2 linked regions of the Homo sapiens genome follow. The protein of the gene in region 1 purifies or fractionates together with the protein of each later gene. This does not show direct contact. Each region holds a gene or a part of one and is shown on either strand. Other genes may lie near its edges. The genes, in order: HDDC2 and TRIT1.

Region 1 (3,914 bases):
CTTCATTTTCACCTTGTACCATTTGCCAAAAACCTCCTCAGTTCCACTTCATCTGCTGAGTAACAGAGGACTCCTCAGGCTTCCCAAATGAACTCTTTGCTGCAGTCAAGTTGATTAATTTCTCATTTGCAAAATACTCCTTTACTTTCCTACACTCAGGGCTTTGGTTTATCTGCCCTTCTCTCTGCATGCAGTGACTTCTCCTACCTCTCTGGCTACGTTAACCCTTTTGAGCTCAACTCAGATTGCACCTCCTCCATTAAGATCAACCAAGAACAGGTGATCTCCCCTGCTCTTACAATACTTAACATTTTCGACCATAACTTACATTTCACTTCTTACAGAAGCTATTTTGGGCCTGCGTAATTCACTTGGGATTTATTTACTCTCTTACATGCTAGTAAACTTTTGTTCTGTGCTCAAAAAGCATTTTAACACTTGTCGATTAAATGAAGGGGGAGAAGATACCTCTTTCTCAGCTATGTCTTGCACACACAACTCCAAAAGGAAGCCTCACGAATGGATACTACTATCCATAAAAGGCACTAGGAAAGAGCACACAGTGTACTAATACAATGCTAGAATTTTAGACATAACACACTCACCTTCAAGGCCCCAATATCACACTTAAGTTTCCCCTGATACCCTAGGCAGGCTCTATCACTTGCCAACAGAAACCCCAGATTGCAGTTTACAACAACTGAGGCAACATAACCCACATCCTAAATTTGTATGGTTTGCTTCAAATAATTTTTCTTGACCTATAAACTAACCTACAAGGATTTGACATGGGTCTCAGTAGTAAAAACGGGTGCACACCCATAGACCAGAATCTCTCACGAGCATCAAAGTCCAGCTCAGCTTACCGGTCTTTGTTAAGACGGTCATCTTTGATCACCATAGCCATAACTGCCATCCGGTACATGTGATCTGAAACGCTCTCCGGCCTCTGGACATTTCTGTATACCCAGCCAGTTCGTGGGACTCTCTGATAAATATGAAGAAGAAAAAGAAGTTTTAAAGAACAAATATTAACTATCTGCTATGCTCTTCAAGAGATGTCCAGGATATAACACACAGAAGCCGGGTCATAATTTCAGAACCTATTACAAAATGTTTTGCTAAACTAGCTAAAATGATAGACATCTGGAATCAAATGAACTAGAGAGCTCAGAGAATGAAAGGGGTAGAAGACAGAGAGAGATAAGTCACAAAGTCCATTCGTCAAATTATTCTGTTACTGATGTATAATTATGGAACATATGCAAGTCCTTTAAACAAAAACAAAACTGCATTTTTCCGAACAAGAGTTGCGGCTTTTTGCCTTCAAATAATCCTACACAAGCAGAAAACACTGTATTGAAGGGTCTGAACGTGAACGAGTGATAGGCTTCCAAATTCTGAGGCACAAGGGATAAGGGCACTTCTAATTGCTTGATGCTACCAGCCGTGACTCTTCCTTTTATTCACATCATAACTTCATCTTGTGAAACTGCATTTCTTCCTCAGAATTCTACATCTCTAAGGAATGTTATAAATAGTAGTCAGAGTGGCATGAAACGGATAATTTACTTTGAACTTGGGAGAGAGACGGGGAAGACGCACATGATGAAACTCGTGTGTATTACATTAAATCCCGTTTGGGGGGTGGCCGGGAGAAAAGTCTTGTTTCTGGAAGTAACTGTGAGACAGACATAAAAAGCTCCACTTAAAATCTGAGGAGCCGACAGATTCTGTTCTTCCCACCCGTGCTCAGAAGCAGCCGCGCTTTACACACACACACACACACACACGAGTTCTGGGGTCGTGAGCACACACACACACACACACACACACGAGTTCTGGGGTCGTGAGCCCCGGAAAAGCTCAGTGCAGGCAGGGCCAGGCCGGCTGCTCTCCGGGAACTGGCGCGGCTGCAGTGCGGACCTCGCGGCGCCAGGCTCTAGGCTCAGACTCCGGGCCGCCCCAGCTGGCCAGCCTGTCCCGCCGGCTGCTTCCTCCGTCCACCGTCGGCAACGCGCGGCCGCATCCGCAGGACTGGGGCCTTTCCGGAATTCGGCGTGGCGGACGCGGCGCAGGAAGGGCAAAGACCGCCGGCCGAGCGGGGAGGCCGGAAGCTCCGCCGCCCCACAGTCCCGCCCGCTCGGCCGCGGCCTCCCGGCCTGGTGCCCGCTCACCTTGAGCTGCCCTACCAGCCGCAGGAACTGCAGTAGGGACCGAGCCCCGTGGCCCGAGAAGGTCGCAGAGGAGACCGAAGCCATGCGGCCACCGACCCCGGCTGGGCGGAGCAGGCCGCGGCGAAGCTCCTCCCCGTCCTCCTCCTCCTCCCCTTCCCCTTGTCTTTCTTCCCCCTCCTCTTACTCTTCTATCTCTTTCTCCTCCCCCTCTTCTTCTTCCTTCTGCCCCTCTTCCTGCTCCCCCTCTTCCTCCTCCCCTTCCAACTCCTCCTCCTCCTCCCCCACTTCCGCTTTCTCCTCTTCCTCTTCCTCCTGCCCCTCTTCCTCTCTCCCCCTCCTCTTCCTCCTCCTCCTGTTCTTATTCCTCCTCCCCCTCCTCCTCCTGTTCTTATTCCTCCTCCCCCTCCTCCATATTCTCACGGTTTTCTCAGGACCTTCTGTCCAGCCTTCGCCTTCTTGGCCTTGGTGTCCGCTGCTTGGGCATTGCTCCGTCAGTGGCAGACACCTTGCTTGGCACATACTTGACACTCAGTACTCTTTATGAAAAATAAAGCTCTCCTTTCTAAATTTATGAACCTCGTTATTCTTCAGTTGACAGTGTAAAACCATGAAACTGGATGAGGTCACCTGGCAAGAGGGTGTGAATGAAGAAGAAAAGACACCCAAGACCTGAACCCCAACATTTAGGCTTTGTGAGATCAAGAGGGAACAGCCAGTGAGGTAGGAAGAGGATTAGTAGGTAGGATAGTTGTGTCCTGGAAGCCATGTACAAAAATATTTCAAGAAGGAAGGAATATGGTCAACCAAGTCAATGTGAGGACCAAGGTTTGACTTCCAGACTTAGTAAATTCAATATTATTGGTTACCCTGACAAAAGCAGTTTTCAGTGTAGTGGGCCAAGCAGAACCTAGTGAGATAATTCCGAAGAGAATAGGAGCAAGTATTACAGCACATTGGAGATGGGGTTGGGGTGCTGTTAACTAGTGGAGAGATTGTTTCAAAACAGGAGATATTATGTATGTTTACTGATGAAGGGGATCTAGTAGAAAGGGAAACATTGATTATGTAAGAGACAAAGAAGAGAAATATTTGAATGTCGGCCTTGAGTAAGGAAAAATATTCCCATCTGGTGTACAAGATAAAAGATGGGCTTTAGATAGGAATATGGAGAATTCATTCAAATATTGGAGGAGGACAGAGTATAGGGTGACTAATCAGTCGCACATGTGGTCATGGGAGGTTGTAGAAGTTCTCTTCTGATTGCTTCTATTTTCTCACCAAATTAGGAAGCAAAGTATAGGCTGGGATGTTATAATAACAAACAACCTCCTTATTTCCTGTATCTCAGCAGTTTAACACATCAAAGGTTTATTTCTCTCTCATGCTAAGTGTCTATTGTAGATCAGCTAGAGGATGCTGCTTGCTCTAACCTTACTCAGGGAGCTAGGAGGCTTTCTTTGCTCTCTTTTGCCAAAATTGGAAAAAAGAAAAGTGGCACTCTGGCTCTTAAAGCCTGTCTCTGGAAGTGATATATGACCTTTTGTCTACGTATCATTGGTGAAATAAGTAACACTGCCACGTCTAACTTCAAAGGGGGCCTGTGGAGTGCAATCTTGCTAGGCCTCTGGGAAGAAAGGAGGCTAGAATGTTTGTGAATAGAGGAGGAGGCATTTGAGGTTTAAGGAGTGATATAGTTTGGCTCTGTGACCCCACCCAAATATCATGTCAAACTGTAAT
Region 2 (3,814 bases), on another chromosome or scaffold:
TACTGTTGCTGTAGGCCAATAAATCACAATGATAGAGATGTAGAAGAACATAATTAAAATGGTGACAATCTGTTGTTAAATTAATCTGCCATAAATTGATAAAAAAGGTAATTTTTCAATAATGAAATTTTATAAACAAAAACTTTTACTCTACAGGCAGCATAAAATAATGGTATCTGATTCATAGTAAAGCTGTTTGTCACATCTGAACAATTACGACCTCTCACTCTTTGCTCCTTTGCTTGGCTCAGTAGTTTAGAATGTATCTAGGATGTCTTTTTTTTTTGTTTGAGACAGAGTCTCGCCCTGTTGCCCAGGCTGGAATGCAGTGGTGCGATCTCGGCTCACTGCAACCTCTGCCTCCCGGGTTCAAGCGATTCTCCTGCCCCAGCCTCCCAAGTAGCTGGGATTACAGGCGCGCGCCACTACGCCCAGCTAATTTTTGTACTTTTGGTAGAGACAGATTTCACTGTGTTGGTCAGGCTGGTCTCGAACTCTTGACCTCGTGATCCACCCACCTCGGCCTCCCAAAGTGCTGGGATTACAGGCGTGAGCCACCTTGCCCGGCCGTATCTAGGATGTCTTTGGATTAAAGTTCCATGTTCTTATCCAAGGTGTCATCTAGGGGTTCTTAAACATAAAGTAACACTAAGTTGCAGTATAATGACATATTAAATTAAAAATAAGAAAGGTAAACCAGGGGATCCTCAGCCACCTCTAAAACACATTCCATATGAGAATAAAATATTTGTCCTTCACAGTTGCTGTAATTGTATGCTTTCTCTATATAATGAGGAGGCATGTGCTTCATTCTGACTATGCTTCATTTTTATTTGGAGTTGCAAAGTCTTAAATGTGAGTAACGTATGAATTATTATAATAATCTTTGGAATCTGAATTCTTTCTTCCGTTTGGACAAATTCTCTTTTTTTGTGACCACCTGTTCACTCGTCATGTAAGTATATAGTAGGTACCTACAACTTGCTTGCTGGTTGATGGGCTAATTTGATTCAAGTTCTAGATGAGCGCTTGGATAAGAGGGTGGATGACATGCTTGCTGCTGGGCTCTTGGAGGAACTAAGAGATTTTCACAGACGCTATAATCAGAAGAATGTTTCGGAAAATAGGTGAGGATTTGGCTGTTATTCTGACCTACTGTCCATATTTTGCAGACAATCAAAAGACCATAACGCTAATACTGGCTTTGGGTCTACTTGTTTATCAGCCTTCTTTGCAGATGCAGTTTTTTAATCTTTCAGACAGTCCCAGGAGTTAACTTTTCAAGAAAGTAACCTGGTGGGTAGGGGAGGGGAAAATTTCAGAGAATCAGTAACTGCTCAGGATCTCAATTTCCTTATCTGACAGATGAAATGGCTCAACTAGGTCCATCTCCAAAGCCCCTGCTAGCTTTTAGGAGCAATGGCTTATCTGCTGATACCCTCCTGTTCCCAGCCAGGACTATCAACATGGTATCTTCCAATCAATTGGCTTCAAGGAATTTCACGAGTACCTGATCACTGAGGGAAAATGCACACTGGAGACTAGTAACCAGCTTCTAAAGAAAGGTGTGAATTCTTCCATCTAATCTAGTCTTGGACATCTTTGGGTGGCAGGGTACTCTGCTGGTATGGTCTGAGAAAGAGCCAAGGCTTAAAGCGTCCCAAATAGCCTTCAGCTCAGAACTGAGATTTTTGTCCACCAAGTCTGACATTGCACTGCCGTGGCTGACTTTTTCCTGCTGGGCTGGGAGGGCCTGCCTCTCTGCAGGGTAAGGAGTGCTTACCTAGATGTTCTTAAATCTACTGTATCTTTCAGGTATTGAGGCTCTGAAACAAGTAACTAAGAGATATGCCCGGAAACAAAACCGATGGGTTAAAAACCGTTTTTTGAGCAGTAAGTCTCATGTTTTTCTTTATCCTATGGGTCTGTTTTCAATAGAATATAGATGTCCTCAGCTCACCCAGAAAATGAATTTTAGATTCTGGGCCTGTTCTAAGATTTTGGATCTGACCTAAGGGAAGTTCTATAACATAAATGATTATCCAGGGATATTTTCTTGGGATGTCACAAAAAAAAAAAAAATTATTTGCATTGAGGAGTCTGCCTTCTGCCTTGAACAGATGGATACTGGCTGCAAACAGCTAAGAAGAACAGCAGCATCTTTTTTGGAGAGTTGGTGTTCAGGGCTGATTTTTAGCTTCAGTTTTGTACCTGAAGAGCAGTCAGATTTCTGTAGGGAAGATTTCCTAATTACAGTGTTTTTGGGGGGCCAGATGAGTTGTATAAAAAGACACCTTCACCATTTCTCCCAGCGTCTCCACATGGTGCTTCAGATTGCTTCAAATGAAACTTTAGTTGAACAGCATTTTTGAGGGAAAAGAAAGGAAATTCTCATTGATTTGGCCCTGTACTGTGTCTTTGGCACTAAATTTGGTGTTATACATATATTATTGAGTCTTCAAGGTAGGTGTTATTCTTTTATTTTTACAGATAAGAAAATGAAGGCCTAGTGAAGTTAAATAACTTGCCAAAAATCACCCAGCTAGTCGGCAGTAGATAACTGAATGCAGGCCTGACACAGAGTCCACACTCCTTTATACTACTCTTACTTCCTTTAGCTGTAACTTTAGCAAGACAGCATTAGTATTGGACCATGGGTAAAAACTATGTGGTTATGAGCTAAAGGAGATTAATTTAAGCATAAGTGAAACTTCAGTTTTATCTTGTGGACATGTTTTAAATATGCTTCTGAATCATCTTGTGTTTACCTTTTGCTGGTAGACTTCTGCTCTCAATTACAGACAGGGCCAGCTGAAGCCTCTGCCCCACTCGGTGCCTCTGAAAATACATACCTTGATCCCTGCTGTTGACCACTAAACTGCTAACATTCTTTCTCCCAGCTCCCACTCTCTGCCTGAGCTCTCCAGTGGAGTTCTGGTGTGAAGAGGCTTGTTGTGCTTTCCTCTACTTATCCTGTTTTCTCTGCATGTCCTGGTAGATAGAAGTCTTAGTGTCATCTGAAGTTGAAGCTCAGTGCTGTATTACAAATTTCTAATGCAGCTTCTCTTATCCCCATGTCTGACAATAAGCCTTTAACAGAAGACTTTTGGGTAATAATTTAGAACTTCTTCCTGTAGTAAAACCACAATAATTCCTCCATCTCTGTGGTAGGAGGAGTTGATGGCACAGTGTGTCATATGCCTGTTCCTCATTCGTGTGTATGCCGGCATCGTCCTGGTGCTGGAGTGAAAGGCACAGCTGCCCTGTAAATCAGGAGCTGTGCGTGATTGGCCAGGGCTGGTCTGCTGGGATATGGTTCTGGCAGGAAGCCAGGGGGACTTCCCCACCCCAGCATGGCCTTGGACCCAAGCCAGAAATAGCAGCTGGGAGCCGAGAACTTGTTGAAAGGTGCTTAGACAGGGCACAGAAGCCCAACAAAGGGCTTAGAGGAGAAAGGAAAATGTAGAGTGGCCTGGAAACAGGTGCAGAGCTTAGCCAAGGCCAGGTGTGCTGTGGATGCTGCCTGCACCCTCCTAGTCTCACCTTTCCTGTGGTAGCAGGTGCAGCCCAGTCCAGTTTATGAAGAATCTTATTTGGGGTTGGCACAATCAAAAGGCCAGCACCTGCCAGTCGTTGGCATCCGAAGGCCTTTGATGTTTTTGCCCATGGGCGATGCTCCTTTGCCTTTAGGCAACTGACTTAACCTAGTTGTGGAAGGCAGTTTAGTGTGTATATAGGCAGGGAAGCTAACCACAGAGACTAAACTCTTGCAACATGGTTGGCTCAGGTGGGTGAAATACCTGTAGCTGCACTC

The links.
Region 2: the proteins of HDDC2 (region 1) and TRIT1 fractionate together in Homo sapiens (co-fractionation; one large-scale study listed by BioGRID). This does not show direct contact.

What each region holds. Positions count from the first base shown.
Region 1 is NC_000006.12:125,299,672-125,303,585, forward strand, and holds the start of HDDC2 (5'-deoxynucleotidase HDDC2), read right to left. Parts: upstream 2,297-3,914; 5' UTR 2,262-2,296; coding exon 2,178-2,261; intron 2,090-2,177; exon of another isoform or gene 1,927-2,089; intron 1,682-1,926; exon of another isoform or gene 1,573-1,681; intron 989-1,572; coding exon 867-988; intron 1-866. UniProt on the Homo sapiens protein: Catalyzes the dephosphorylation of the nucleoside 5'-monophosphates deoxyadenosine monophosphate (dAMP), deoxycytidine monophosphate (dCMP), deoxyguanosine monophosphate (dGMP) and deoxythymidine monophosphate (dTMP).
Region 2 is NC_000001.11:39,845,299-39,849,112, reverse strand, and holds part of TRIT1 (tRNA dimethylallyltransferase isoform 1 precursor), read left to right. Parts: intron 1-1,015; coding exon 1,016-1,127; intron 1,128-1,365; exon of another isoform or gene 1,366-1,452; coding exon 1,453-1,565; intron 1,566-1,815; coding exon 1,816-1,893; intron 1,894-3,814. UniProt on the Homo sapiens protein: Catalyzes the transfer of a dimethylallyl group onto the adenine at position 37 of both cytosolic and mitochondrial tRNAs, leading to the formation of N6-(dimethylallyl)adenosine (i6A37).